Linked DNA regions of Homo sapiens: region 1 is linked to region 2. A link means that fine-mapping ties the variant in region 2 to the plasma level of a protein whose gene starts in the linked region. Region 2 holds a variant in brackets. A gene starts in the other region. All regions are shown on their reverse strands.

Evidence for each region. A credible set is the group of variants that fine-mapping cannot tell apart. PIP is the chance, under the fine-mapping model, that this variant and not a neighbour inherited with it causes the effect. The UK Biobank Pharma Proteomics Project read protein levels with antibody pairs (Olink). The fine-mapping took linkage between variants from a reference panel, not from the people measured, so its PIPs are less certain.
Region 1: it holds the start of SCG3, and the variant in region 2 is the best candidate, but not a certain one, in a credible set for the plasma level of the SCG3 protein (UK Biobank, PIP 0.73).

Annotation. Positions count from the first base shown.
Region 1 is chr15:51,671,824-51,688,526 of GRCh38, reverse strand. SCG3 (secretogranin III) reads right to left here and starts at 7,024. Exons shown (of 12, transcript NM_013243.4): 1 at 6,690-7,024; 2 at 5,958-6,010; 3 at 5,403-5,448; 4 at 5,093-5,308; 5 at 125-267. The coding sequence starts at 6,771. RefSeq lists a cis regulatory region at 16,009-16,326.
Region 2 is chr3:71,493,772-71,510,136 of GRCh38, reverse strand. The region is part of intron 2 of FOXP1 (forkhead box P1); the gene reads left to right. Among named protein-coding and RNA genes, the nearest start is that of MIR1284, 40 kb to the left of the region's middle. RefSeq lists enhancers at 5,322-6,521, 11,750-12,688. The variant C/T (reference allele first, on the strand shown) is at 12,249.

The sequences.
Region 1 (16,703 bases), not on the chromosome of region 2:
CTACGGGTCCTAGTAGAAGGAAGACACATTATAAACACTTGGCTACTTGAGGCAAGTGACTTGGCTTCTTGGCATACTCTAAACTGCACTAGGAATTTGGTTTATTTCCTACCAAATGACTTACAAGGCCGAGATTAAGTAGTTTAGAAACAATCTTGTCAAACACGGCTCTGTCATTTTCTTCATAAATCCTGGCAGCGATTTTATGGACAATGTCTTCAGCGGTTAAAGGAGTCCCGTCTAGTTGATGAAGACCATCTGGATCATCTAGACAGAACGACCACAACTTCACACCATAGTGATCATAGATCTATTTCATGCATCATATTATACTTATAATCTGTACTTCGCTTTTGTATATTCAGATATGTTTGAAATGTATTTATGGTGGTTCTCGGTCCACAGAAACCCTCGGTTTGAAATAAAATTGGTCTTCATGTTAAAAACTTAGTATGATAATGGACATTCTGAAACTTTCTTAGGTGACTATAAGAGGAAGGAAAAGCTAAAGGCAACAGAAAAGTAGTCTCCATTTATTGTTATCACCAATAATACAAACCATATTATACTTTTTATTAACATAGTATGCCATATTTATATAGCATGTCATATTATTCAATGTACCCTTCTATATATTGTATGATTTGATATTCCAGTTCCATACAGGGAATAGATAGTTTGGTAATATCCCCACATGTACTACCTTTGCAGGCAAATTCCTGGGGTAGGGGCAGGGACTTCTACCTCACACCCAGAATCAGACAGTGTGTACTGAAGATTTTATGACTCACCTAAAATAAATATTTACTTCTAATTGAACTTGTATTAGAGTGTCTTTATGTAAAAAAGGCAGCTTAAGGTGACAAAACTCATCCTTAGAGAACAGGGATCTTACTGTAGTTTATGTGCCCGGAATTTAAACTTTTAAAATATGGCAACAGATCTGCACAAAGCAATATGTAAATCTTTGCAGAGAAGCATGCTCATATGCTCCCTTGGCTCTCCTAGGAATACATTTGGCAATACAACTTCAGACTAAAGTAAGGGCCCATCCTGAGGGAAAGGGCTGGTGGCAATGAAGCATTGTAGCACATCCATGGAGATCTTCCAGGAATCAATTATTAGTCATCTCCAATCTATACTACATTGAATGGATCAAATTTACAATGCACTTAATTCTCCCTGTTTCCTCTGGAAAGATTGGAAAGATCAGAATTTTAGCCCCAGTGATATCTCTGGTTAGCTATATCCTTGGATCACTGTAAAGGAGTCTAACAAGGTATCTATTTCATGGGATTGTTGTGCCATTAAAAGTAATGGCAAAAACCGCGATTACTTTTGCACCAACCTAATATATGAAAGCTAATGTATTATTGTTATTATGCACAGTGGATTTGTATTTTGAAACAAAGGAACAGCAATTATCTCCTAGAGAAAATGGAAATTGAATCTCCGGCCAGATTCTGCCCAGACAATCCTCATCATATTCACTCAAAGAAAGAAGAGCCTAGTATTTCTATTCTGATTCTGCTCTTTTCTTCCATGGGTTTTGGGGATTTGGACAGGGAATTTATCCCGTGGCTTTTCTTTCAGACTCTATGAAAATAGAGGTATATGCAGCCTCAGGCAGAATATCTCTTTCTTGTTTGGAAAGAAGCTTAGGAAAATGAGTGGGGGTAATTATACATGGAGGACTGGAAGTTCTCTGTCAGTACAAAATTGCTGAGCTGTTGGCCAGCCCATGAGCCATGAGCCCTTTGAGCTGAGTACCAGAGAGACAAAAAAGCAGAAAAGCCCCTAAGAAAAACAAACAAACAAACATACAAACAAACAAACAAACAAACATAAAATCAGTTCTCCTCCTGGCTGGCTGAAAATTTGGATCGTCATCTATTTTTCAGGAGCAGAGACTCACTATTATGTGTCTGATTTTTCCATTTGCGGATTGCAAGTCAGGCTGTCAGGAATACATAGAGCAGAAACTGCCCCAGTCTATGCAGAGGTGGAAGAATTTATTTCCCTTCCCACTTATCTATCCCTCAGGATCCGTAAAAGGAGGAATATTGGTTGCCTCCTAGACCTGGAAAATAACTGAGATGACTGTTTTTCAGTCCATTTACTTCACAACAGGGAGGATGTTAGTAACCCACTGAAGAGTCTTTGCTCTGCTGCACTGCTGTACTCTCTTGAGCCAGGAACTTAGGTCTCCCCTAGCAGTGCTTTGCTGGATGGTGTAAACAGTGGAACGTGTGACCATTGCTCCTCACCTTTCCCTGATTTCCTTCACTATTCTAAAATGGATAGTATGACTCAGAATGGCTTCCCTCCTGCTCATGAAGGGGTATTTCACCCTCCATGTATAGACTCCCAGAGGGGAGCCAAACATGGGTTTAACACATAACTTTTGTTAAGTAGCCACAACATTCTAAGTGAATGTCAAAGGGTCATGTCCCAAGTCATCATCTGCCCAGTTATGTTTTGAATCCCTAGCATCTAACATAGCACTTGACATTCATTTGTTCAATATATTTTAATTAAAGTCTTATTATGTGTCAGACACTGGAAATAGAGTGATGTAAAGGTTAGGCATGCTCCCTGACTACACAGGGTTTATTGTCTACCTCATAGTCCAATACATAGCAATTGCTCAATAAATATTCGAATGCATACAGGAGCCCCAAAGCACTACTTTATAAGAGAAATTTGGAAAGATCCTAAATTGTGCATACTATAGAAAACACTGAAAAGGAGAATTGATGGGTCCTATAGTACAAGCCTGTTTGGAAGCTTCCTAAAGGCGAGAGTAGGTCTGGGAACACATCCGGCAGAAGTTAGCTTCCTTTACCTTCCCCTCTGGGATGAAGTCTACATGCATCTGAGGTTCTATTCAACTTAGTGGCCAAAAACCCTCTGGTTTCAGGATTTCCAGAGCACAAGGGGAGACCAGAAGCTTACTCACAAATCATTTTCTCCAAGAACCTTGGCCTGTCTTCTCTGTGATCTCAAGTGGAGTTAATACCTCCTACGGTAAACCTGAAGTCATTAGGACTAGCACTTTGTAGTTCCAAACATACTTGGGATGGTAATAAAATGTTGAACAGTTAAAAAATTAGTTGCTCAAATTAGCGGTCAGATCAAAAACAGATCTATGTCTCTGCCTGCATGTACAACAAGTTTGACCAATCCAGCCAACTCAATATTAGGCTATTTTATTAAATCAAATGATCACTTCAGTTGAAGTGGTTGAATCTGTTTTGTATGCAGTTATAATCAGTGTCTATTTGTAGTCCCAATATTTTAGGTAAAAAAGTCGAATTCAAGATTTTAAAAAGTAAATTTCCCTGAGTAGCATGGCATATGATATATGTCAAAATATAAACCCATTGCCTCCATCCCACTTCATAGGTACACGTGACACTTCAGAACACTCCTAGGTTATTATGTCCTATGAAAGTCCAATTTAATAGTCAGTTGTTTTCTGGCAGAGATAATCAACATAAATCTCCTGTAGCTATGGAACAGAATAAGGACAGGGAAGAAAACCTGTACTTACTCCTAAGCACTGGTTCTCAAAAATGAAAAACACACTTTCCTTCTTAATGCCTAGGTATGGCAGTTCATTTATTCCCTCATATATTATTTCATTTGTTCATTCATTCATTCATTCATAAATTTATTCAATGAATTCATGGGCTTCCAGGCACTGGGGTTACAATGTCTCTATTCTTATGAAGTTTTCAGTTTAGTTTTGGAGAAAGGCATTAATCATAAATAATCACACTTATGAAGGTAAAATTACAAACTGCATGAAGTGCCATGAAGGGCAAGAACAAGGTTTCTATCAGATTATGTGTGCAGGATGAACCTAGAAATGTAGTCAGGAAGCAGTCCATGCAGGACTGTGCAAGCTTCATTAAGGACTTTGGTTTTCCTGTTTTGTTTGTTTGTTTAAGATGGAGTCTGGCTCTGTCGCCCAGGCTGGAGTGCAGTGGCGTGGTCTTGGCTCACTGCAGCCCTTGTCTCCTGGGTTCAAGTGATTCTCCTGCCTCAGCCTCCCAAGTAGCTGTGACTACAGGTGCCCACCACCACTCCTGGCTAATTTTTGTATTTTTAGTAGAGATGGGGTTTCACCATGTTGGCCAGGTTGGTCTTGAACTCCTGACTTCGGGTAAGGAAACTACCACATTGGCTGCCAAATGAAGAATGAGTTGGGGAGAGGCGGAGTGGTTGCTGGGAGAACTGTAGATTTTGCTATAGTTTACATGAGACATAATTGGAGCTTGGACAAGGATTGGAGTTTGGACAAGTACAGAGAAAAACAATTGAGAGATACACAGACATAAAATTAGTAAGTTTTGGCAGATTAGAATTTGAGAGGTGAGGGAAAAGATAAATAGTTTGATCCTAGATTTCTGTCTTTAAAAAACTGGATGGATAGTAGTGCCTTTCCTAAAGAAACAGTACTCTAAGAGGTCTAGGTTGTGAAGTGGACACAGATTATGAGTTTAATCATGGGCATGCTAAATTTGAGGTGCTTCTGACACTGCCAAGGGAAAATGTCGAATAGGTAAACAGATAAATAGGTCTATAGCTAAGAGAAGTCTGGCCTAGTGATATGGGATGTTAGGATATAGATGTAATTGAAGCCACGTAAAGGTTAGGATGACCTAAGGAGAAAAGATATGGCTAGGAGGAAACACTGAAAAGGAAATAGTGGATATTTCACCTTTTTTGTGCAGGGTGGGAGGGTACTTTACTGATCTAATTATTTGAAAATTATGATATTTTGTGTGTACTCATTGTTAAAATAAATCTGAATGTTCAAATGAATTTAATACCATAAAATACAAATACTAGATTAAAAAATGTTTTCAGAGCATCACTAAAGGAATTTTTAAAGGGAAAATAAAATATGGCACTCTGTGGAGCTGGGGCTCTACATGTTATCAGTAAATATATGCTTTATCTCAATTTTGGACTTGACTAATAAAGGATTATGAATGTTTAAAAGATATTTTTAAAATATTGGACTTTCTCTTAACCCATTATAGGAAACTCCACGTTAACAAAAAGTTCTTTTTTTCTCATTTACCTTGAAATTTATGATCCAATCCACTCTTAGTAGAGTCATAATCATCGATCAGTTTTCGATTCTTGGTTGAATCAACATCTTCCACATTCAACTTATTATCAAGTGGGGAGCTTCTTATAGATTGTCTTTCTTTCTCAATTTTTTCCTTTTCTGTTATTGCCTTTAGCAGGTTCAAGTTATCAACAAAAGAATAGTTGCTCTGACCTGGCTTGTTTTCTGGAAGAATAGCCCCAAACCCAACACAGCCATTTTAGTTCAGATTCTCATAGCCTACATTATTTAAATTAACATCAATATGATTTCTTTTTACCTGGAGGATATGTTTTTTTAATCTTGTCTTCTTCTGCTTCAGCAATCTGTGAAGCAAACAGGAGATAGACTTGGTTTAAAATCATTGCTCCACTACTTACCAAGTACAAGAGCCAAATGATTTAATCTCCATGGGATTTAATTGTCTTGTTTGTAAAATGTGGATAATTCCTATTTCAGAGCACTGTTATAATAATTAAATGAGATAAAATTAAGGGTAGATGCTCAGTCAGTGTTAATTTCTTTCTCCTATAATATTGTTGAAAGAGAAATCTCTGGTAAATTAGGCAATCTTACAACAGAGTGGATGTGATGCTGAGCTTACTGGGTTATTATATAGTTACTCTATGTATTCATTATACAGAACTCAATGTAAATAACTGCTAGGGCATAGAATTTACCAAAACTAGATTTCCCGTCCTAATTTCTGTCAATTAACTATTAAGTTCCTGATGTTTGTAAATTCAAAATGACCAAAATGTCACAGCATAATTACATTAAATAATAATAACTAAATCAAAATGAAATAGCATTCATAATGTTACTTTTGACCTACCTGTTCATTCAAAGGTCTTTCTGCACTTAATTCTCTATTATGTAGAGATTTGTCTAGAATAAACACATGTGAATATAAATTTAATTGTGCGTTGAAGGACAAAATATGCCTCTTATTAAATAAAATTTTTATAAAAAGGAAAAATATTAGGAGAAATAATTTTGGATGACTATGAAACAAATGCATATTAACAAAGATTATCAAGATTATACAATAATAGTAATTATCAATATTGCCTTGTTTATTATCTTGGTGTATTTCTTGAGCTGACAGAATCACACTTTTTTTTTTTTCTGACCAGAAATTTAACATATAGTTCTAACACTAGGGTTATCAGCTATTCTCAGCTAGAGAGAGCATAATTTGGATTGGTATTATTGGCACACTAAAAGCTCTTTCATCATATACTGCATATATAATGAATAGACTGTCTGAGAAAGGTTGTAAGGCAACTAGAAAACAATCCAAGCCACTTTAGGTGAAAAAGGTTCCCTTCCCTTTTCAAAATAAGATCTTTAAAAACAACCCATATTATTGCTCTATCATTTTAAAAGTGAAGAAAAAAAATCTGTCTTCTGTCTCTAAATTCGAACTGATTTCTCTGTCCGTATTCATGGATATGATTTGATCAGAAAACGCGTCAGGGTGATTTACAGCTCACGTATTATGCCAAACTTTACCTTTTCGTGGCGAAATAAAAGGAAGGTAGGAAGAAGAAAAGTGTTCACATACCTTGGCTTCCTCCAGGTTTGGGGAAAGCTTGAATCGGGAGCACTAACACCAGAATCCAAGTGCCGGTCCCGAGGAACCCCATTCTTCCACGCTCGGCTTGGGTCACAGCCCGGCGCTGGGCTCCTGGAGCTGTAGCTTTTGTTATGAATGAAAAGGAGGAGTAAAAACAGGAAGAGCCAGGAGGGTGGGTGTGGGGCGGGAGAGGGGCCGGGACTGGGCGGCTGCAGGATCTCTGACACTCGACGGTCAAGGGATAAGCAGGGTTGGGGCGCGCGGGAGTCAAGTCTCCAGGTAGAGGGGAGCGCTGTCCGCCCTGTGGGTGCTGAAGTTCCTGTGACGCGGAGACTGCGCGCCAGGGCGTAGCTTTACTCTCGCTCCCTCCTGCAGAGGAAGTGAGGAAGGAAGCGCATGCTCCATGCACGCCAGAGGCGGGAGGGGATGGCGTCGGTGACTCCAACGCTACTCCAATCCCCCGGGAATGGAACAAAGGAGGGGCGACCGGCCAGCTGGTGTATTTTCTGTGCTGCAGTCCTAGGGTGCTCCTGGGCTCAGGGTCAGCTGGCTTGTCCTAAGCGTGACAGAATTGTCCCAACCTCTCAAGTAAATGTTACTTCAAGGGCCAAATGCCTTCTCTGCCTGTGCACCTGTCAAGGAGATTTAGATAACCTTGTGCGAGGAGTTCTGCTTCGGGATTCTTCTTTTGGGATATCTGCTCCAGAATCCCTTCCTTCCATTCACCTCCTGTACCCAAAAGGTAGATATAATTATAATCTCTTTAGAAAAGCCCTGCCTTTTGTGGTCTGTGTTGACGTATCAAGCATCCCTCAGCTCTACCGAGGCTTTTGAATTGGGAAATTCAAGGAACAGTCTTCCAAATAGTCAGATTGCTGCAATACACTCTCACTCTCTGATGCTGAAACACAACAACAACAGAAACAGTCCTGAGTAGACGAGCAGCAATGGCAAATTCTCCTTTCCCCACCAAGTGGAACCTCCCCCACTTTACACACACACACCACACAACTAAATTAGAAAAAAGAAGCTGCATTTCTGTAAAATCTTGCCCAGAATTTAATTATGCCCAAAGACCTGGCTGTTCCAGGGGGTCCTTCAAGAGAGGGGATAGTCATGAAAAGCATTTTTCATCTTTACTAAGTCAGGGAGGTGCTTCCTATGTTCTGAGAATATTCCCAGAAGCCTAAGGTTATTGTATACAAGGAACTATCAAAAGACTTTAAATGATGAAAACAAGCAACATTAATGTGAGCAGGATGCTGAGTAAGCTCTTTAGTCTCTGATTTTTAAACAGAACTTGGACCTTTTCCTCTGGACTGCGGCATGCTGGGAACCAGTCTGAATAATGACCAAAGAGAAGGATTCAGCACAATCAGGCCTTTGATTTCTGCACCCTCCTTTTCAAGGAGGAAGTTATTCAAGTACCTAAAAACAAACAAACAACCAAGCTGACAAACAAATCTCCCTTGCTCCGGAGGTTTTTGAGTTTGGAAGTCACTCAAATACTTCCTTTGAGGATCTAAAGAGTATTCTAAATCTAACAGCTCCTTCAAAACAAAAAACTCTTTATTGGCAGTAATAACATAGCATTATTATCCCAGTATACTGCATTAAAAAATTAAGTCATATTTTAAAATCCCAGCTGAATGAAGGGTATATTTCCTTAGTTTCCTTTTCTTTATGATGGAAATGACAGGCTCTGTTTACCTCACACTGTTATTATGAAGATCAAATGGGTACATGTTTTGAACTAGTCATTTTGATACCAAGAATATTTTGATACAGCCTAAGAAAATAAGTCATGAAACGTTTTCAGCTTTTATGAAACATTACCCAACGCTATCTGAAATAGCCATTCACTGATCCTGAGACTCACTGACCTAATCCCTCAGCTTCACTTTGTCCTTTGTCCCATTCCTGACTCATTTATCTCCTCAATACATGTTTGCAATTGGGAGAGATTCAGGATGGGATGAAGGTCAGGGATGTCTGTTGAGTACATTGCATTGCTTGCCCAAAAGAAAAAGGGTATTTTGTCTCTTTCTGCCATTTGGACTTAAAGTGATTATGTTAAATGGACACTAAATCTAGGATCATGTTATGTTTCTGATCAAATGAGTGGTGGAGCATTGAGTAAAACATAGGCATGAATTAGTTTACATTATTCAGCCTTATGGATGATACCACTGGACTTAGTATAGGTCTGTGAATGGAGTAATCCTAAATTGTATTTATTCATCAATTCACTTAACAGGTGTTTATTGAGCATCTGAAATGTACCAGGTATTGAGATAGTTGCTGGGTGTACAAAGACAAGTAAGACACTAGTCACTGCTAGTCCTATAGCCTAGTAGAGAGAAAATATTGTGAATATAACAACAACTATTTGGTGAACAGGTTTCACATGCAACACACTATTCTTATTGAAATATAAGTGAATGAATAAGTACAAGAGAGTGTTATGTGTCCTTTTTGTATTTGCAAAGCTCAAGTAGAGTCTGTCCAAATAATGGAATGAATGGTCAGGAAAGATTTCAAAGAGAAGACAGCCCTTTTATTAATAATAAAAAGATTAAAATATTTGATTCTTATGTGTGAGAACACTATAAACATGGAATAATATGAAAATATATGTTGAAATTACAAGACAAATAACATTGACACAGATCAGATAATTATTAAATCAACAATGTACAATGCACAGTGAGTTTGTCAATGCTGCTTGTTCATTTGTCAACACAAATGGAACAATTGTGGTGCGCTCATTCACTAGTGGAGAATATTATTTTTGAGCTGAGTCTTGAAGGTAGAGACATTTGTAGGATGCTTTCATTTATTACAGAAAAAATATATTAATTATTATTGTATTTTTATAGAAAATTTCAAGCACAAAAGTAGAGGAAATATTGAAATAAGCATGCATGAATCCACTACCCAACCTCAATTATCATTAACTCATGACCATTCTTTTTATTCTATATTTCCGTCCACTTCATACCCCAATGAGTTGTTTATCCATTAAAAACCCCAGACTTCATCATGAGGTCAAGCGATTGAGACCATCCTGACCAACATGGTGAAACCCCGTCTCTACTACAAATGCAAAAATTAGCTGGGCGTGGTGGCACGCGCCTGTAGTCCCAGCTACTTGGGAAGCTGAGGCAGGAGAATCACTTGAACCCGGGAGGTGGAGGTTGCAGTGAGCCAAGGTCACACCACTGCACTCCAGCCTGTGAACAGAGAGAGACTCTGTCAAACAAACAAACAAACAACAACAACAACAAAAACCCAGACTTCATACCATTTCATCCATAAGTATGTCAAAGTATGTCAGTATATTTATGTAAAAGATAAGGATTATTTTTTCTAATGTTACTGCAATGCTTTTAACATACCTCCTCCTCATTATAATAATGCCATAGTATCATCAAATATCCAGTCAGATTCAAATTTCCCCCTCTTGCCTCATACTGTAAATATTTTTACAGTTGGTTTACTTGAACCACGATTGCATTTGGTTGACATGTGAGAGACACATATGAGTAAGAATGGAAGGGCAGATGTTGCAAGGTTTTCTTTGACTTCCTAGATGAGATCATTTCTTCCTCAGGATACCATGCACACTCCCAGTTGGGCATATATCCCATATGCTGCTTTGTGTAGATGCTTTCTTTCTCCTTATTTCCAAAATAATAAATACATATTGAAGGAAAAACTTCCGAAAATACAGATAAGGAAAAAGGGGAAATATCTGATAGTGATAACCAATGCAAACTTTAGGGGTATGTCCTGTTGTTGCACATTTTTTCTAAGAAAACTTTACACATATATTTATAAAATTATATCTCTCACTGTGATTACATGCTTACATATCTGGCTTTCTACCACACTAGACTGTGAATTTTTCAAGGAAAGGATCTTGTTTCACTCATCTTTGATTTCTCAGCCCTTCTTACAGTGTCTAGAAATCCATCTGCTTAAATAAATGAAGGGATGGGGGGTTTCCTGTTTACCTTTGGTCTTCAAATCCTGAGGCTATGATGGCTATCCCACATTGGAGGATCTTGACACTGTCAGGACAATTCTCCACTCAGCACTTTCATTACAAAGGCGTAGTCTCACAGAAGAGATGTTCATGAAAGGGCTAAGAATAGAGAGCCTGAGCTGGCAAGGCCCTTGCAGTTACAGAGTTATAGGAATGGATCTGTTGCTGTGAAAGAGACTGACACAGGATGCCAGCACTAGAGGTGGCTGCTGATATAGACGAAAGGAGAAATAAATGTGAAATCTAGAAATTCACCATCAGAGGAAAGTTGAAATAACAAAGAATAATGTAAATGAGCAAATAACAAGACTTAAGGAAAGTGAAGGCATGGAAATGAAAAGAAAAGGGCACATGAATAAGGAAAGTGGGCCCAAATGACAAGATCATATAGGCCACCTACAGACTGAAAGGTGCCAGAAATAAATCTGAGAGTGGGTAGGAGGAGAAAGTAGTAAACTTGTCTTGTTCACTTATCTTGCTTGTACCATAGTTGAACCAGATTGGGTCAGTCACCTACCCTGGGGGCATAGGAGGAAGATGCAAGAACTATGTTTGAGTGTTCACTCCAGAACCACAAGGGTAGAATGGCTTCCCAGAAGGAATCAGGGTGAGGCTATAAAGTAAACAGAAAACAACAGATGCACATGACACCATTAAATATAGTATTTAAAATGAATTAGCATTATTGAGTGAAAATATCAGGTTGCCTATCAGCAATGTGTTTCCTATTATAGAAAGTGTGTGTGGCTGGGCGCAGGGGCTCAGGCCTGCAATCCCAACGCTTAAGGAGGCTGAGGCAGGAGAATCTCTTGAGTCCAGGAGTTTGAGACTGGCCTGGGCAACATAGGGAGACCCCATCTCTCCTACCCCCACAAAATAAATAAATAAATAAATAGATAAATAAATAAGCTGGGCATGGTGGCGCATGCCAGTAGTCCCAGCTACTCAGGAGGCTGAGGTGAGAGGGTCACTTGAGCCCCGGGTCTGTAGTGAGCCATGATTGCAACACTGCACTCCAGCCTTGTTGATAGAGTGAGACCCTGCCTCAAAAACAAAAAAACAACAACAACAAAAAAGTGTGTGTGTGTGTGCACATGCTCATACCTAGAAATTTATCTGGAAGTCTATTTCCCATAATATTTACAATGGTTACCTGGTTAGGATTTTTCTTTGTTCATTATGCAGTTCTGAGCTCCTTATATTTTCAACATGAGTATGTACTATGCTGTTTTATAATCAGAAAAGAACAATAAAACAACACAGTCTATGTAAATAATTTTATATACTACAATGTTTCATATTCCATTATGTTTCAGACAATTGTAATAAACTGTTTTCATTTGGGATGTGAGAACACATTGTGATAAGGTCAGTGGAAGGGAAATTAAAATTTGGTGGGAGGGTTTTTTTGTCTTCTCTGACACTCTGCTACTACTTGAGTGCCATTCTAAACAGTTTTTCACAGTGTACTGTCATTACTTACATGTCCTTTTCATTGTAACCTCCTAGAGGGGAGGGACTTGTCAGTACTCATCTATTTACCTCAGTGCCTAGCGTATGTAGTAAAGAGGTCATAAGTGTTTGTTGAATGGAATCTTATCATCTTATGAATCTATCTATAGCAGTTCTCTTACATGAGACTTGGTACCTTTTTTCCACGTGTATTCCAGGAGTATATTTCAAGTGGCCAAACCGCACAAATTCCTCATTAGCCCTGCCCATTCCCTCATTTTCCAGGGACAATGCCGCCAGGTAGACATGGGCATGCTTGAGGTGGGCTAAGACTTCCCAAATGCTCCTCAGGTTAGCACCCACCCTCTGCCCTGTGAGGCTCTGGAGCTGGGATTTGTGGCACTAGGAATTTGGAATAGGAAACTATTCTAGTTCTTCCCCCTGTTCAGTGATGCAGGTATGGGGGTTAGCAGGGAGGGAGATAAAAGGTACAAAGTGGCGTTTCTTTCTATAGGGTTCAGCCTTGGGGAATCTGCTAAAATACAGAGGGGATGTGCTCCCTTTTGAATCTTCACAAGGTACTAGCCATGCAACGTGTGTTCAGCTTGCATGAAGTTAAGGCCATTCTTGACCCCCTTCATTAGTGTGGTGGTCAGGCTGGCCCTGAGTGAGCTGCTTCAAACTCTTAGAAGTGTTGGTCAAGATCATCTGGATTTCTAAGGAGGAGAGAGTAAGCATCAGAAGCTTGGCCTCTGGCTGCTGGAAGGCACCTTTCTCTGGGTTGTGCAGAGGTGACAGAGCAGTAGGTGCACCAGAGTCATCCTTCATGGACCTCTGAGGTCAGGTAGAGGACAAGGTGGAGAAGGGCACCTGCCCTGACTCACCCCTGTCCTGGAGGTCATACAGATGCTGATTAGTAGCATAGGAATGTGGCAGGGCTAAAGGAGTTAGAGACTTTGCTCAAAGTAAGGGGCTCCACGAAATCACTGCTCTCTGGGCCTACTGTGACTATTACAGGGTGGCAGGAATTGGGATTCCTCTGTCATTAGGTGTGGTGGGCTTTGAGCATGAGTTGTTTCTGCTCCATGGTTATAATGAGTGAAGATGATGAACAAGTGCCAAGAATCATGTCTTAAAGGAAGGCATGATTGGAGTTGTGATCAATGGCATAAACTGGGTCACCAAAGCAAGAGATCCAAAAGCAAGAACCAGAGCTCACTGCTTAAAGGGGCAGCGAAACTCAGTGAATTGATGAACCGGAGTACTAGGAAGAAGGTTGGTCTGGAAGAATTTTTGACTTGGTGCTTAGGCACCTACAGTAGCTTTTTATGCAGGTTGTTTCCTGCTTTGACTGGTTGTGCCAGATCCATTAAAGGAACTGAAATGGACTGGCTGGGATATGTAGAAATGGGTACAGTCTAAGCGTCACGCCAGCACTCATGGCAGACCTTAGCTCTCCATTTCTCTTCTTTATGAACGCAGTGAGAGGTCTCCACAGGGCAGAAGGATTCCCATTTTAAGTTCTGGGTTTTTTTTTTTAATGTTATAAAAAGTATTTGTTTGTTTGTTTGTTTGCTTTTTTGAGACTGGGTCTCGCTCCATCACCCAGGCTGGAGTACAGTGGCATGATCTTGGCTCACTTGAGTCTCAACTTCCTGGGCTCAAGCGATCCTCCTGCCTCAGCCTCCTAAGTAGCTGGGACTACAGGCGTGCGCCACCAAACCTGGCTAATTTTTTTTTTGTAGAGATGGAGTTTTGCCATGTTGTTCGGGCTGGTCTCAAATTCCTGGGCTCAAGCAATCCACTTGCCTTAGCCTCCCAAAGTGCTGGGACTACAGGTGTGAGCCACCACAACTGGCCCCTTTTTAAGTTCTTATCTATAGATTCTAAGAGAGTCTAAGTTTCTAAATTTCAGATTCCATGAAGTAGTATTTCCTCTACATCAGTATCTGGGGCCTGGATGTGATAACTCAAAGAGAATTTCTCCCTAGAGGTCAACCCAACCATAGACAGTGGGAAGCAGCTTCTATCTAGTTGTACCAGATCCTGGTTGATAAAAAATGATAGCAAGGGACTGAGGAATCAATGTCCAGATGCAGGCAGTCTCCAATGGACCAAGGTGACAGTTCTTGTTCCTTGCCTTGGCTCCATGTTAGATTCCTCGGAGGGAGCTTCTAAAGTCTTCCCAAAGAAAAACAATGACCTAGAGACTGATGAAACTCTGGCCCGGTAGCACTAGAGCATTGTCCAAAGCTGGGCTCTCAAGTGAGTGGTAATGGTGGCTTAGAAGCCCCTCTTATGTGTGGCACGAGGGCTTCCTTGATCCATGTGGGTTTAATCCACTTACCTGACTCATGGTTCTGGAAGATTAAAAATATCTGGAAATCTTGCCTAGAAAGTTGAAGCAGCTCTGAGAAAAAACCAAGTCCTTAAATGGTGTGTATGTCTCTACACTTTTTGGTTCCCTGCTTTAACCCTGATTTCATCTTTTATTGCTGTCTCCCTTGCTTTCTTTAATCCAGCCATGTTAGGTTCCTTGCTTTTGCTCACACACAACAGGCCTGCTTCTTCTACCTCAGGATCTTTGCTGTTGCTGTTTTCTCTTCCTGGAATGCTCTTCCCCTAGATATTTCCATGACTCAGTCCCCTACATACATTATCTTTCTGCTCAAAAGTCATGTTCTTAGGAAGTCCTACTGTCTCAAGTTGGGTTTCCTGGAAAGCCAACTCTGAAGTGGAAATTAGTATGCAGGAAGTTTGTTAGGGAGTGCTCTTGAACCAACTCCTATGGAAGAGAAGGAATGGGAAAGAAGTAGGATTTGGCAGAGGGACAAATTGAGCTGCAATGCAGTCTCAATAGAAGACCTTGCCAAACCTACAAGGAATTCTAAAGATGAGAGGACTCTTCAGAGCTGTCCTGAGCTGGAGTGGGAGGGCTCAGCTTTTACATTTCTGTGTAGATCAGTCACGGGGTGTGAGCCTTTCCAGCATGACCTCGGATGAAGAGGTTCTTTTCAGCAGCTGGAGGAATAAGTCTTTGTGTCCTGAAGGGGGATCTGAGGAGTGTATCTCAATGCTCACCACACATACTCTGGCCCCCTATTTAAAATTGTAACCCCTTCCCCTGCAATCCCCCTTCTTATCAGTTGCTTGTTATTTCTCCATTGCACTTACCACCATCCAGTGTATTGCACCTTCACTTATTGTTTTTATTTGTTATCTCTCCCCCACATCTAGAATGTGAGATTTATGTGGACTGGGATTTTTGTCTGCATACTATTTTTCATTGCTGTATTCCTAGCATCTACAATAGCATCTGACTTATAGTAAGTGCTCAACAGATATTGATGCCTGGAATTTGCTTTAAAATACCCAAGAAAAGAAAATACACAGTTAGATAAATAGATAAAGAGAAAAAATAAGAGTGGCTATTAGTTGATAATTATTGTTTCTTGGCAATGAATACACAGGCGTTCAATATACTATCCTCTCAAAATTTTTCACAATAAAAAGCTTTGTACAAAAGGTTTATTTTAAATTTACTCCTCACTGAGGGAGGGAGTAGTAAGAGAGACTATTCTTCTTTCCTCTTCCTTCTCCCAGTGGTATTCTGAAAATACAATTTAACATCTTCCTCAGTGGAGCAGAAAATCAATAACGTTGCTCTGGTGCTCTAAAGCCCATCCTCCAGCCAGTCGTCCTCCGGTGACCCAAAGTGACTTAGCTGCCAACTCTTCTGCAAGATTAGTGGTGCAATTAACAATCCTTGAAGAATTAGGCCAGCATTTCTTGTCAGACACTACATAGGTATACTTCGAATGAATGTAATCTGAGAAACTAAGAGTGATTAGTGATTCCCCCCGGCCCCACCTCCCGCCCCGCTTTCAATAAGGCATGAAACAGTGGCCAGGAGGAGCCTGTGTGAAAGTCCTCAGCTCTTCCCAAAAGAGAGGATGGGTTGTTGACTCATGGAGGGGGCGGGGTGGGGGCAGGGAAGAGAAACCAGCAGTTCCTTTTTCTCTGCTGCTCCTGTGGCCTGTCTGACCTTCTTTCTTTCTACTCTCCCTAGCTCCCTGAGCTCCAGGCACACTGGCCTCTGCTGCTGCTGACATGGCCAGACCCACCCTTACGTTGGAGCCTTGACTGTGACCCTCTTGTCTACATGGTTTATTTCCTCACCTTCCCCAAGCCTTAGCTCAAATGTCACCTTCTCAGTGATGGGCTTTTTAAAATTGCACCCTCTTTCTCCACTCCTGTACTCCAAACCCCATGACCTTGTTCTACTTTTTAATTATTCCTTGCCACTTGTCTCGTTCAAGCATGCTATATAATTTATTTATCCATCTATTTATTATTATATAATTTATTTATCTAATAATATAATGTATTGATCCATCTATTCTGAGTGCCTATAGTAGTGCCTGGCATGTAAATAGTCATGGAAAAAGTTGAAAGAATAAATGGAGTTGAGTCCTGTGTTTCTCAGTATCTATACATTCAAG
Region 2 (16,365 bases):
CAATCTCGGCTCACTACAACCTCCGCCTCCGGGGTTCAAGCGATTCTCCTGCCTCAGCCTCCCTGGTAGCTGGGATTACAGGTGCCTGCCACCACACGCCTGGCTAATTTTTGTATTTTTAGTAGAGATGGGGTTTCACCATGTTGGCCAGGCTGGTCTCCAACTCCTGACCTCAGGTGATCTGCTCGCCTTGGCCTCCCAAAGTGCTGGGATTACAGGCGTGAGCCACCGTGCCTGGCCTGATTCCTTCTTTTTAGAGACAGAGTCTTGCTCTCTTGGCCATCCTGGAGTGCAGTGGCCTAATCATAGCTCATTGCAATCTGAAACTCCTGTGCTCAAGTGATCTTCTTGCCTCAACCTCCTGAGTAGCTAAGAATCAGGTGCATGTCACTGAGCCCGGCTAATTTTTAATTTTTTGTAGAGACAGAGGCTTCTTTATGTTGCCCAGGCTGGTCTTGAACTCCTAGCCTCAAGCAATTCTCCCATCTGAGCCTCCTAGAGCATAACTGATTCTTAATTTGGGGCCTAGCTTGTCCTTTCAGGAGGTGAGGAGCTGTTGTGGGTTGAATTATGTCCTCCCCCCATGATGTATACACTGAAGCCCTCACCCCCAGTACCTCACTCGGAATGTGACTGTATTTGGAGATAGGGACTTTAAAGAGATAATTAAATTAAAAATGAGATCATTAGGATGGGCCCAAATCCAGTGTGACTGGTATCCTAATAGGAAGAGGAGATTCTAACAAAAACCCACACGGGAAGACCGTGTGATGACACAGAGGGAAGATGGCCAAAAAGAGGGGCCTCAGGAGAAACCCACCCTGTGGATACCTTGATCTTCGACTTTCAGCTTCTAGAGTCATGAGCAAATATTAATGAATGCCTGTGGTTCAAGCCACCCAGTCTCTTGTACTGGGTTACAGCAGCCCTGGCTGACTAATAAGGGAGCATACAGTATCAGAATCTGCACAAGGGCATGCTTCATCTCTATTCTCTATTATAATACAATGCTTAAATATGAAAAAATGATGGCAAGAAAACCATTACAAGGAAGAAACCCATAATGACTGGCGAAATCCATACGGAGAGTGGAGCTGTATCAGAAAATGCCAAAGTAGTCATGATGGGTCAGGTTTATTGAGAAGTCCCAGTGGGCTGAATGCAGAGCTCAGTGTCTCACATACATTTTCCCCTTTTGTCCTCACCACAATCCTGTGAGCTATGAGCTGTTGCCCTCTTCATCTTGTAAGCAAGGAAACTGAGGCAAGGAAGTTAAGTGACATCCACGAGATTTCAGAGCCAGCCAGGGTCAGAGCTGGAATTCCAAGGCAGGTATCACTCTGCAGACCTAAGTTGTTTCTTTGACAGCCCTAAGCCCTTGGGAGGTTGGGGGCCAGAGAGGGGTGGTTGTAGGATCTATTACGATAATTGGTTAAAAGATATTGGGACACATTGCCTTAACGATGTTTTGGTTCCATCTGCAGAAAGAGGCTATAAAACGTATTGAGTAGAGTGAAGATGTCACTCGTAAAACAATGAGTATCACTCATATTACAGAGCCCTCAGGATCTGTGAGCCCTGATCCAAGCCCTGTACATACCTGCCTATTTCTAACTCACAGAGGCCTGAGCAGCTTCCCCAGAGCTTCTGGGAGTTCTGCACCCAGGCCGTCTGACTCCAGCACCTGGACCTCTAACCACTGGGTAGGCACTGCCTTCCCTCACGAGCCCAGCGCCTGCCTAGCATCTGCTTCTGTCACAGTGAGGGAAAGATGGTGGCTGCCATTTGAGCTTTTAAAACAGAAAAATACTTTGTCCCCCAAATTTCCTCCCTTTATTACAAACATGATTTATGATAAATGTAAAGAATCTAAAAACCAAATCAAAGCTAGAATAAACATTATCTGTAGTGCCACCCCCTAAAAAGAATTACTTCTAGTATTTTTGTCAGCTTTTCTAGTCCTTTTTCCCCCTATAGAAATATACTTAATGCAGCCATAAATATACTAATAAGTTTATAGGCAGCAGCACTCATTAGAAAAGAGCAAGAGCTTTGGAATAAGACTTGGGTTTAAATCCATTTACTAGTTGTGTGTATTTGGACAAGTTATTTTATTTCCCTGTGTCTCCATTTGCTGTCTGTAAAATGGGGATAATAACACTTCATTGGATTTTGCAGTAGCCTAGCATATGTAATGTGCTTATTCCTGTCAGCTGGCACACAGTAAGTACTCAAATAACTTTAAAAAGTAGCAGTTTTGGGCTGGGTATTGTGGCTCATGCCTGTAATCCCAGCACTTTGGGAGGCCAAGGTGGGTGGATCACGAGGTCAGGAGATCGAGACCATCCTGGCTAACATGGTGAAACCCCATCTCTACTAAAAATAGAAAAAATTAGCCGGGCATGGTGGCAGGTGCCTGTAGTCCCAGCTACTCTGGAGGCTGAGGCAGGAGAATGGCGTGAACCCGGGAGGCAAAGCTTGCAGTGAGCCGAGGTTGTGCCACTGCACTCCAGCCTCGGTGACAGAGCGAGACTCCATCTCAAAAAAAAAAAAAGCAGTTTTGCAACATATCATTCAATAGACATTTGGTAAGCAGGTATGATTTGGGGCTCACGTTTCCTTCTATGCCCTTGTTTGTTTTTACAATACTTTTTAATGGTTGCATAATATTTCATTATCATATGAATCAGAAATAGTTTTTAACTGACATTTATTTTTCTGTTTTCATATACTAGATAATGCTGTGATGTATTCCTTTGTGACCTTGTAGTTGAATTCTCCCCAGTGATTACTATTTTGTTAAAAGCATGCATTCCTGTTCACTCCTTACTCTTTGGAAGGGATTCTAAGTCTTGTTGAAGCATATCACCACCCAACTGGAAAGGCGGTGTCAGTTTACCCTGGCCCTGGCTGTGCATGAGAGTACCTGTTTCTATTTGTGAAACTTTAATGTAAAATTAGATCAATGGGCATGAAAGAAAACTGGGGCATAATTAAGTTCTGTGGTTCGCTGACCCAAATCTGGTACCATGAAGGACTGGCAGCAGCTCACACATTTGAGAGAGGAGAGAGCAGCCGGGGACACTGTTGTTCACTTAGTTGTGTGGTCCAAGCAAAGATGAGAACAGCAGCTCTCAGGTGTGGAGCCGTTGCTGGTTGACTAGGCATTGAGCACAGTGCTCTCCAATTGGATAATTTAATCTCAGCAATGCTTGGAGGTAGGGACTTTCATTAGCCCCATTTTATAGAAGCAGAAATGGAGGTTTAGAGAAACTGTAAAGTGTGCAGAATTACAAGGCTACTCTATGGCAACGTTGGGAGCTGAACCCAGGTGCCCTGATGTTCAGCTTCCTGCTCTTGTCTTAGGATATTAGTAATGGAGGTGGAAATCTGGATGCAAGAGCCAGCACTGAGCCTAAGTCAAGGGCAAACGTGGTAGCTGGCTGGTACTGAGGGGAAGGACCAGCTTCCCCCAGTTGTTCAGCTTCCTGCTCTTGTCCTAGGATATTAGAAATGGAGGTGGAAATCTGGATGCAAGAGCTAGCAGCGAGCCTAAGTCAAGGGCAGACGTAGTAGCTGCCTGGTACTGGGGGAAGGATACCGTGGAACCCCTTAGTTGGAAAAGTTATCAGCTAGTTGGAAAAGAAAACCTGGGGATTTGGCAAACACAGGGAGGTGAGGAGGGGGAGCCAGTGTAGGGAGCGTGTGCGGATTCGAATAGCAGATACGCCGCCGTGGAGACAGGAGATGTAAAACTACCACTTGCCCTGTTTCAAGGTTTACATGCATTATCCCACTTAATCTTCAAACCACTCCATGATGTAGGAAGTATCATTACCTCTGTTTTGCAGCTGATGAAACAGAGGCCCAGAAAACTTAAATAGGGTTGGACCACGAGTATCACAGCCAGGATCGGACCCCAGGCAGCCAACTCCCAACACTGCCGAAGCCAACTGCGAACTAAGGCTCAGTGGAGAATTTGCAACCTGGGATATATTTGTTGGAAGTGATTGCTCCCTCCTTTTGAACTTTGCAGCAATTATTGTCTGTAGAATTCATCTGGCAATTAATCATGTACTCCCGGTGACAAGGCTCTTATTGTTGTCTTGAAATGTTATTTAAATCGCACATTGTTATTTAACTTCTTGCCCAGAGAGGCAGACTGTGCCTGGGTATCCCCCACCTCACCCAGTGCATGTGGTACCACAGTGCAATAAATGTTTGATTTAATTTCATTTGAGAGGCTTCCGGGCGGAAGTGATAATCTCATCCTTTAGACTTTAGTGACAGGTGACATTCGTGGAGGGGAAGAAGTAGGAGAGGAAGGGGGACGATGCCCACAGTTGTGATTCAGAAGAAAATGGGAGAATTGAAGGGAGACCGAGAGAAGAATAGAAAGCATCCCTCTTCAGGGCTGGGCGCAGTGGCTCACGCCTGTAATCCCAGCATTTTGGGAGGCCGAGGCAGGCAAATCATGAGGTCAGGAGATCGAGACTATCCTGGCTAACACGGTGAAACCCTGTCTCTACTAAAAATACAAAAATTTAGCCGGGCGTGGCGGCAAGCGCCTGTAATCCCAGCTACTCTGGAGGCTGAGGCAGGAGAATCGCTTGAACCTGGGAGGGGAGGCGGAGATTGCAGTGAGCCTAGATTGCACCACTGCACTCCAGCCTGGGCGACGGAGTGAGACTCCATCTCAAAAAAAAAAAAAAAAAAAAAAAGCATCCCTCTTCTACAGTCCAATAGGAGGACTGAGTGCATGCCTCATATGCCGTCATAAACTCCCTCCTTGTCTCCTGTCTTGGGGGAGATGTCCTGTCTCATTTCCAAGCTGCACTACCAGGGGTGACTTGGGTCCTTGCTTTTCTGCTTCCCGGGTTTGCCTGACTTCACGCAAGAAGCCAAGGGTTTTAGACAGTGGGAGGCAACGTAGAGGTCTGAACAGAATTATAACTCTATGTTGCCAGGTTGTCTTTATTTTGGGAACCATTCCAAACGTTCCTACTTTTCCTGTTTGAGCTGTTGGAAAAATGGTACTCAGTAGTATTCACTGGTGGTTAAGGGACGAGGCTTGGGTTTCAGAAAGATGTGGCTCTGTCACTGACTGTGGTCTTGGGTAAAGGACTTCCCTTCACCAGCCTTGGTTCGTTCATCTGTAAGATAATAGCATTTACTCTTGCCACCGTTATAAGGCTTAATAAGAGGGTGGATGAAAATGCTATGGACAGAGTACCTCATGTGCAGTGCAGCACAGGCTTTGCACATGTTAGTTGGTGTTAGAACTGGAAGTACCCAGGAGAATATCCAAAAGTCCTACGACCGCATTGAACACCAGGGTGAAGGACCAGCGTGTTCCTTTCCTTTCTCATATTTGCAACAGAAATGTCACCACTTGGGCTCCGTGACACTTTTCTTGATGACATTGTCCTGATCATCAGCTCTTCCCTTGGCGCCTCGAGACATTTCCAAACCACATCATTCCACACACCCTGGAATGTGCACGTTTCCTTTGTCAGAAGGAACTGTGGCCATCAGACGTTGGACAGCTCTGAGCCGGGTTGTTTTCTTCTCATCTACTTACTGTTGTGCTGAAGTTTGGTTTTATTTTTTAATGTAAGAATTGTCTGGAAGTTATTCTTCAGTCATTTCATTAGTCATTTACTTTCTTGGTTTTGAAAATTGAGGAAAAATTACTTTGAGGCAGTGGGTCAGATGAGCGTGGCTGGCTGGGTAACCCATTTCCCGCTGAGTCACCTGTCTGCTCAGACAACTAAATGCTGAAGTATGCTTGATGACTAGTCACTGGCCAACGTCATATTAATCTGAAATTTCGTTTCTGCTCCTTTTAAGTTATGGTAGCTTTGGTTCCTTGGTGGGTTTTTTGAAAGTGCTCCAAGTATTGTATTGATTGGATGATGTAGCCTGGAATTCTCGGTTATCCCCCAAAGTGTTTTTTTCGATTTGAGGCATAAAATTATGACATAGTATTGTTCAAAAAGATGGGATTCAAATGCCTTCATTTTATAAGAAGGGAAACTCAGGTTCCGAGAAGCTCACTGACTTGCGAAACATCTCAAACAGTTGTTGGCAAAGCTGGGATGGCGTTGATCTTCCTGGGAATTTGTGATGTGTACTCACCCCCTGGGTCTTGCTGCACTTCTGCTAAAACTACCTGGAAATTATTTATTTTGGTCTTCTTCCTTGATAGAAGAGAATCTGAAAGTCAGGAATAGTGGCTGCCTCCAAATGCCCTTGGCTCCTTCTCCTGACCCCCTAATGAGCATGTCCCCAGAGCATGTTATAACCTTGGAAAACAAGGCTACTTAGTATGTTTGTACTCTGATGCCTGTATGTTCTGTACATGATCTGGCCTGAATGATGGATGAGGCTCCATACAGGCTTCCTGTGTCTTCTGCCATTCTCCCCTCCCTACAGTACCATACCTGACGAAATAATAACATCGAGTCACTGAGGAGGTTTACCATAGTGTGGTGCTACAACCTTAATTCGTGGTGTTTTTTTTTTTTTTTTTTTTCGAGACAGAGTCTCGTTCTGTTGCCCAGGCTGGAGTGCAATGGCACTATCTTGGCTCACTGCAACCTCCACCTCCTGGGTTCAAGTGATTCTCCTGTCTCAACCTCCCGGGTATCTGAGATTACAGGTGTGTGCCACCACATCCAGCTAATTTTTGTATTTTTAGTAGAGATGGGGTTTCATCATGTTGAAATTCTGTTTGCTTTTTAACTTAACTTGAGCATAAGCTTAGAAGATGATTTGGGGGCTGGGGGCTTTATTTATTTTAGCAAGTAATTTGGCCTGTATTTTTATTCCTTTAAGTAATTTGTAACTAACTACAAAGGCCTCTGGTAAGATGGCTTTTGTTTCTAGTTGGAACATGGAGACCAAGAGAACTCTCTAGAAAACAGATTTGGCTCCACTGCTATGGGACTTCACACTTACCTCCACAGAGGGGCTCTTCTGATGCCTCTATGTAAACAGCACTTTTAAATCCTACTTCAGGGACCATTGGTTTTCTCTCAAGAGATATGTTCCTTTTTTTTCTTCTCTTAACTCTTTTGTTATTTTACTCCTTTTCCAATAATGGAAGGCTTTTCAGTTTTACATTAGAGGCTACTACTTGTTTTTTTTTTTTTTTCTAATTGTAAAGCAGGCAAAAATCATCACAGAAAACAGATCTCAAAAGAATTGCACTTAGTGTTGTGACCTAGTTGGTTTCTTCATTCTTTGAAACATTATTTGATTTTTCCTCCCGTATTAGCTGTTATGTATGCCGGTTACATAACCTTAATTTTTCATGGAAAATATGGATGTCATCAATTAATAGGACTACCCCTGCTGTTGTTATGGCTGGCTTCTTCTAGAATGTTCCCACTGGGGAAACTGAGGCTTAGGTTTGATACTGCAGGATTTGCCATTGTAATGTTTTCCTTTTAGTAACATCATCATTATGAATATAATTCTTGTTCTCATCCAGTAGAGAGCCTTGGTTACCGGCAACCCAGTTCAAGCCTTTGAATAGATACATAGGGATCACCTCTCTAGTGTGAAGATGAAAATAATATAATTTGTTTACCACCTTGAGTTGTTTACCACAGGCTGTGAAAAATATGTTTTGAATTTAAAAGTGTGAAAAACAAGTGTGCTAGCTATCAAAAAAGCTCTCCCCTCAAAGTAAACATGTTTATAGAGCAAGACTCAAAACAAAATACTTGATAAGCCTAGCCAATCAAAAGAAAGTAAACATGTTTACCACAAAAGCCTTATAAAGAACCCAGATGGCAGCCAGCTCTCTGTTCACTTGACCGTCCTTCCAGGGAGCTGCAGAGGCTCCCCTGGGCCTTGGGGACCGGGCCGCCACTTGCCCTGCTAGCAGGGGGCCTGCCTTGTGCTAGCTGTGCTCAGTTAGCTAGACCCAGTTTGCCAGTGGGAACGGAAGGTTTGTGTTTTCTGCCATTTAATTGAATCATGAGTGGAAGGTATTTGTGAAAATGATTCTGGAGTTCCCATGATTCTTAAAGAGCAACTTGTTATAGATAGGGTGCCAAGTGGGCTTCTGGGGGACTCTTCCTGGCTCCCCAAAAGAGCCTTCCTGATGAGCGTCACGCCTCCCAACCTTCTGTGTTCCAGGCGCTGTCGTGCCACCATCCAGGATATAACCTGCAAATCCCAGACCCTGCCTTGCTGATCTCACTCTGCGAAAGAAACCAAAGAGCTTGAACAGGAAGTCAGTAGAAAAGACAAGGCCATCTTGAGGGATACCAGGGTTTTCAGGGCACTGGGTACCACAATATGAGTCTTAGATGATGTAAAAGACACCGAGTTCAGAAACGTGAAGGTGGATTGTGTGCACTGGGAGGAGCAATGGATTCAAGGTGGTTAGTGGCATTAAATTATTTTGACTATAGTCACCTTGCTGTACTATCAACTACCAGGTCTTATTCATTCTTTCTATTTTTTTGTACCCATGCAATGAACATTTTCTTCGAAAGGTCATGTTGTTGTTCAAAAGTGTTTTCACCTTTTGGGCTGGGCACGGTGGCTCACGCCTATAATCCCAGCAATTTGGAGGCCAAGGTGGGTGGATCATGAGGTCAGGAGATTGAGACCATCCTGGCCAACATGGTGAAACCCTCTTTCTACTAAAAATACAAAAATTAGGTGGGTGTGGTGGTGCGTGCCTGTAATCCCAGCTACTCGGGACGCTGAGGCAGGAGAATCGCTTGAACCAGGGAGTCGGAGGTGGTGGTGAGCCGAGATGGCACCACTGCACTCCAGCCTGGCAACACAGCGAGACTCCGTCTCAAAAAAAAAAAAAAAAAAAAGAAAAGCATTTCAGAGTTTGGATTTTTTTGATTAGTGATGCTCACTCTGTAGTAAAATACCTGAGAAAGGTGTTGAAGAGCATTTTTGCCATTTATTTATTTATTTAGAGACGGAGTCTCACTCTGTCACCCAGGCTGCAGAGACTTGATCTGGGCTCACTACAACCTCTGCCTCCCGGATTCAAGCAATTCTCCCACCTCAGCCTCCCGAATAGCTGGGATTACAGGCACCCGCCACCCCACCTGGCTAATTTTTATATTTTTGGTAGAGACAGGGTTTCACCATGTTGGCCAGGCTGGTCTTGAATTCCTGACCTCAGATAATCTGCCCATCTCAGCCTCCCAAAGTGCTGAAATTAACGATGTGAGCCACTGTGCCTAGCCATCCTTGACATTTAGAAGTAACTGCCAGTTGGCTGGGCAGGAAGCGGTGGTTCCCTTACATGTGACTATGAATAGAAAGGTTTCCATGGATCTTGGAATCACGGTGGAGGAAGGTGATGGTACTTTCCTTGAGGGTAGGTGACAGGTGAGGTGGGCTGTTGGCAGAGGAACGACTTGGCTGTAACAGGAATTGAAGAGAGACCAACTCTTTCTTTTTTAGTTGCTTGAAGTTGAAAGATGTAGAATGAGTGGCTTCTGGAAAAGGAGAGAGGGGACATCTTTAAGGGTAAAAGGCAAGTCTCTCCATTCATCCAGATGATGGTAGTGGAAGATGGTGGAGAGAGGTGAGCACTAAGGCCCAGGGGAAGGAGGAGTGGAGTTTCTTCAGCACAGAAGGGAGATTCTGGAGTGTTCTGAAGCCAGCAGGATGATGGTCTATCTCATCCCCAAAGAGGGGAAGTGATCAGTTAGGTCAGTTGTTCTCTAGAGCAGGGTTTGGACATAGATGGGGGAATGGAGCAGACAGATGCCACAGGAAAAATCTCACTAGCCTGCGAGTTTCACATGGAATATTCAGGAGATTGTTAGTGAAAAAGAGAGCAATAAACAAACAAACCGAAAAGGTTTCAGGTTGAGCCTCAGAGCTAGAAAAGTAATTACGTAATTCCCCATGTGTTCTAATTAGTCTAGTGGGTTTACTTAAAAATTTGTTTTTGAGCATAGATACCAATAAGTCCTCTGGTGAGTTGAAAGAAACCTTACTAGTGGAAGATTAATAAAAGGAATAGTGATTGGTTAGTTTTAGGGAACTTCACTGAAACAAAGTTAGTTAAATGGGCTTGCCCAAACCATGGAGGTTGGTGTAGTGACCCATTTGGTTAAATCTGGTGACCGTTTTTTACCAGAACTTTATTAGAACTTAGCGCTAAAGACAGATGCTTATTTAGGGCACGTTTGAGTTATTATTATTATTATTTTAAAAACAGAAGTATTATTTGTTCTTCTTTTCCTAGCCTATGAATTGAGGTGGATTGGCATCTTATTTATGAGCTGACAAACACATACCTTTTTTTGCAGCTGATGTGCTTTTTTGAACTGGGTTCAGCATTGTCAAAAAGTTATTCACAGGAGTTGGTGATGGAGCCCGCTCCACCCACTTCTGTTCCCTTTCTATTTTGGTGCCATTTGCAACAAAGGAAACTAAGTTTGTAAATTAGAGAAGGATTGAAGCTCTCACAAATGCACTTCTTATCAGGTTGTGTAACAGATTAGACAGAGCAGGCTCACTCTTGCTGTGGCACGTGGGACCCGAGGAAACATCCATGCAAACTCCATGAGGTGGCCTTGGCCAGGGGACTCCCAAGTTTTCTGGCCAATCTGATTTAGTTGCATTTAAAAACGAACAATTATGAAGATGTATATATCTGCATGTCTGTATGTTTATATGCACATATGTATACTTGTGCGTGTTTATATGTGTGTGTATATACATACGTATATTATGTGTGTGTATAAAATTGCCATTTAGCATTCTCAAACCAAGGGAGATCCAGTGGGCAACACATTGAATTTGACTTTTGCATAAGGGTCCCTGATGGAAATAGATGGCTTTTAGTTCTCCTAGGCCTTAAGTGGACTAGGGGAGGCAGAGGAGGGCTGAAAGAACCCAGAGAGAGGAGTTGTGTGGAGAGAGCTGCCTGGCAGGGTTGCCACTGGTCAAAGAGGGACTCAGAACTAGAGAAATGAATACCCCATCTTCTGTGGCGTCCTGAGATGAGAGCTCCCATTGGTTGGACAGAGAGCGGCCCTCTAGGACACAGAGCTGGGTGGGGGATAGTGAGTGGAGCCTCTGGAGAAGCAGATGGAAACCATCCAATGCATTTTGTTCTGGAAACAGCTATGCAAGGTAACTGCCATAACTCAACCAGGTAACCCATGGGAGAGGTCAAGGTGGGAAATGAACTCCTTCCTAGATCTTCAGGGTGGGGATAGAGCCTCTAGCTTTAGAGCACTGGTTCTCAAAGGATGGTGCCCGGATCAGTAGCATCAGTATCACCTGGGAACTTGCTAGAAATTCTCAGGCCCCGTCTTGGACCTATGGAATGCAAAACTGCAGGAGAGGCCCAGCAATCTGTGTTTTACAAACCCCCCTGGAGATCCTGGTGCTTGGTCAAGATGTCTGTGAGTTGCTGGAGGCTCAGCATATGATGTCAGTTTGCTGAGAGGGCCTTTGTTGGCATGCTCAGAAATGCCCGTGATGAGCATGTTGTCTGTTATCAATCCACTGCTTGAAATTCTGCAGTTCCTCAATCCTCTTTTTTTAGGATAGACATTCTTCAATAGAAATGGAATACTTGATTACATTTAGGCCATGGAGGCCAATACCCAGTGCAGTTCATTCCTTTAATTTTTAAGCTCTTCTCTCAGCTGTGCAGGCAAGTTCCAGGGCAGACTTTTGGAGGTTGAAAAATAGATGCAAATGCTGTCTGTGCTGTTGTTGTTTTCCTGGTGCCTGGCAGTGTTTGGTAAACAACTTGATTGCTAGGTCCCGGCCTCAGGGAACCACAGCTGCTCTTTCTAGCTCCCTGCAGACTTTTGTACTGAGCAGGGATTGCTTCAGGGAAAAATAAACAGGGGAGAACAAAACAAGAAAACATCACTTGTTGTTTTGTTTCTGCCTCTACCTGTTTTTCTGGAGCTGTTTTGCAACCACAGGCCCTGGGATTTGGGTTCCTTTGCTTTACAGAAACAAGGCAGGCCCCGGTGGCATTCCACGCTTCTCTCTCCATGGCTAGACTGTGGCATTTGGAGTAGCCACAGGACTTGGAAAGCGTTGGAAAGGACTTAGTAGCCACTGCCAGAACGCATGCATTTTTAAATATGTAAATTGAAAAGGGAGAAAGCTTCATTCTTTCTAATGACCCCCAAGATGGTAATCTGGCTTTTCAAATCTCTAGGAAAACAGATTGAATATGGCACAATTAATGTTTCAGCACTTCTCGGCTTTTCTCTAAAATATTT[C/T]AATGGGCTTTTAATTTATTGCAGCTCTTGATTAGCAGGGTTGAGGCAGGGTTACTGCTGACCTCCTGGGCCAAGGTACTTCTGGGGCTGTAGTGAAGTGGAAAAGAACAAAGGTTTGATAGTGTTCTCAGCTGGAGCCTCCCAGGGATGAGCCCCTGGGGGTTCACTGAATAATTCCTTCCCCTAAAGTAGTCAGAGAGCAATGCAGTGTTCTTCAGATCTTTATCAGAGTTACCTGGGGTATCTGTTGGGTAGAACAGCAGATTCCTGGAACTTGTTTAAGAATCTCTGGACTATGGAGGGTGGGAACTTGGGCTTCAAGCTGGTGCCTCCCTGCACACTCACATTTGCAGTCCATGGCCTTGGTGATTGATATTGCTACAGTGTAAATACCGTGAGCTGGGGTAGAAAGCAAGTGGGGGTACTGCTACATTTTAAAAAAATGTTTGAGACTTGCACATTGTTTGTTAGTGCATTTACTTTTCACTTACTCTACTTCACAAGTTGGCTGTTCCCTACCTTCTTAAATCAAAAAACTTTCTCCTGGAAATTGTTTCTTTTTGGTCTGAAGTAAGTCTTTTAGAATGTCCTTATAGAGAGGTGATAAACTTCTGTTTGTTTGAAAAAGCTTCTATTTCACCCTCAGCTTTAAGAGATAGTTTTTCTAGTTATACAATTCTACGTAGGCGGGTGGGGGTTTCTGTCATTTTTTTCTTTTCTTTTTTGTTTTTGCCTCTGTACTGTGGAAAGGATAATTTATTTGGGTATCTATCTTCTGGTATTTTTAAAAATTTCAGTTGCTGTATTTTTTTATGTCTAGAGTTCAGAACAGTTAAGTATTTTAGTTAGCTATGGGGTTCCATGAAGATGGAATTCAGTCCTGTGACTGTTGAATTCTTAACAACACACACACACACACACACACACTTCCACACACCACAGTGGTGATTCACCCTTTATTTTTAGATATGCCTGGTTACTTTAAAATATTAGAAGTCAAATAAGACAGCACTAATGACCATACACATAGAGCATTGTTTTTTTTTGTCTTTTTGTTGTTGTTGTTTGTTTCTTTTGTTTTTTTAGACAGAGTCTTGCTCTGTCGCCAGGCTGGAGTGCATTGGCGCAATCTCAGCTCACTGCAACTTCCGACTCCCTGGATCAAGCGATTCTTCTGCCTCAGCCTCCCTAGTAGCTGGCGTCACCATACCCAGCTAATTTTTGTATTTTTAGTAGAGAGGGATTTTCACCATGTTGGCCAGTGTGGTCTTGATCTCCTGACCTCGTGATCCGCCCGCCTCGGCCTCCCAAAGTGCTGGGATTACAGGCGTGAGCCACTGTGGCCGGCCACATAGAGTATTGTTTAACCGATTTATGTCTTAGCTAGAAAGCTGCTACTCACTCCAGTCCGAATGAAAACGAAACTCCCACAGGAAACCTCCACCAGCCCTCTCCTCATGGCTGATCTTTGCTGTTGACTTGCCTACTCCTCACCCCCAAGCCTTCGAGTATGATATTCTGACCTGTGAAATGCGTTTTCCACCCAATCTTCCAATTCCTCCCAAAACCTCAAGATAATGAATTCTTCTAGAAAGCTCTTATCTGCCCAGACACCTACTGTGCTTTTCTGTGTCACCCGTACTGCTTCTCTGTGCTTCTGAATCACTCTGGAATCATAAAACTGGAGACAGTGCATGACCTCATCCATCCTTTGCTACAGGGATTGCAACATGTTTGTTTTGTTTAAATATAACTTATTTAAAAAGTTAGCTGCCATCTTTGAAAAATTCTGGAATTTTACTAAATAGAAATCTAGATTACTGCCTTTATTTGTAGAATTGAAAGCTCTTGAGGTTCTTGAGGGTATGTGCCCATGTGGCAGTAATTGGAGGGGGAAGTACAATGGCTTCCCCCTTGAAGCTGATAAAGTGAGGATTTCTCAGCTTGCCACATTCCTTCCCTCTCCCTGTTACCTTACACCTGGCCTTCCTCGCTCATTTGCATTACCTGCCTGTTACAAAATGTGGCCCATGATTGTTAGTACCAGCATGGTCAGGTAGTGCCAAAATTCACTTGAGCAAGCCTGAGTCAGAAGGGTATATCACAAAAACTCAGGACTTTTATATTAGGGTATTGGCTGGAAAATATAGAGTTCCCATGGGCACAAGCTTTATAGAGTTGAGTCAGGCTGCTAAAACTCCCTGTGCCTCAGTTTTCTTATCCACATATTGAGTTTAAAATAATAATATCTGCTAAGAACTTTGTTGTAAGAATAGAATGAAATAATGATTATAAAAGACTTAAAACAATACCCAGTACATAATGAGTTTTCAACAAATGGCAATTATATTTTTAGAGAGTACCGAAAAGTTACTTCTTTCAGTTGTTGATTCATTTATTCACTCAAAAGATACATATTGAGTACTTGCTATGAGCTGGGCATTTTTCTGAAATTTTGGAGCATTGCGATGAAAAGAAATAGTTCTTTTATCTAATTGAGCTTATATTCTAGTGGGGAAGACAAATGAGCAAATAGATCAGGGCGAAAGCTCTGAAGTAAGCACATAGGATGATATAATTGAGACTAACTTGGAACCTAACTTAAGTAGGTGGGCAGGACAAGCTTTTTGAAGTGGCCTTTGTCCCTAAGTCCCAGTACTGAGAAGGGACCAGTTGTGTAAAGAATGGGCTCATGGCATCTTGGGAAGCTGAGATAGCAAGTGCACCAGCCCTGAGATGGGAAGACACTTGCCTTGCTTGAAACAAAAGGAGGACCACTGTATCTACATTGATTATAGTTTGGGATTGGGTTGGTAGTTAAGGCAGCGTCAGAGAAGTAGAAAGTGGCCAGATTATGTAGGGCCCTCAGGCCATGGAAAGAAATTCAAATTTTATCCTAAAGATGGTAAACAACTTCAGCCCATTTCTTCATTTCTTTTCTTTTTCTTTTTTCTTTTCTTTTTTTTTTTTTCTATGTGACATAGACTTCATGGCTTTAGGGAGCATGTCTGAGCCTTGGAAGTACTTCTTGGATCTCAAAGCTGCTTGGAGGCTTGGAGAATAGGACTTTGCCATTTGACTCGAAGTGTGGTCCATGATTGGTAGTATCAGCATCTCCTGGTAGTTTTCTAGAAATGCAGAATCTCAGGCCCACTCCAGATCTAGTGAATCAGAGTCTTCGGGGATGGGTCCCAGGAATCTGTATTTTGAAATGCTCTCCAAAAGATGCTTATGCACAGAAGTTTGAGAAGCATCAATCTAGAATACATCTGGACAGATTTCTGCAGGACATGGAGCTATGCTCATTGGAGAGGAATGGAAGCCTTTCCTGGGCACCCAGGGGATGCTGCCAGCCGCCGGGATGCTGGCTCAATAGGGTTAGGTACTGGTGCCAGGCTTAGCATTCTAAGCGCTTGAAAAACTCTCTGGTCACAGCACATCTTCAGTGTTGATGGCAGGTCAGCATGAGAGTGAATCATGGTAAAAACAAAACAAAAACCAAAAATCTCTTTTTAATCAGGAAGCTTAAAGGAGAAGTTAATTAGTTTAAAGTATTTAGAAGAAATATGCTTCTTTCAAAAAGACAGAAGCTTAGAGGTAGAAGGAACTTGAAGAGCATCGGTTAATGCCCTGACCCTACAGGTGAAGAGACTGGAATCGAGATGATAAATGGCTCTCCTGGGGCCACACTAGTGACTGAAGACCATACCGGGTCCAGAACTCAGGCTTCTCAGCTTTTGAGCCCTGACCATCGCACCGTATGTGCTTTCTTGATGGAAACATCTCCATGAGTATTGCTCCTTATGTAATCCATAATCATTTTTAGAATAAAATAGAATTATTTTGGAGAAAAAAATGATGATTACCTTTCCTACTAGTTTTAATGTTCGTTATTAGTACTAGTATTTCTAAAATAATTTAAAATTATTTAAATTTTTTACTTTTTTTGTTCTTCGAAAAAGATCATAACTTAATAGGGAATGGTACATTTATCTGTGTAATATTTTAGTTAAAACAGTTTATTGTTACCTGAAGACTTGATAATGGGAAGTGGTATTTTCATATGCTAAAATATTTAAAATATTTGGTACAAAGCCCATAATAAATAACAACTTTA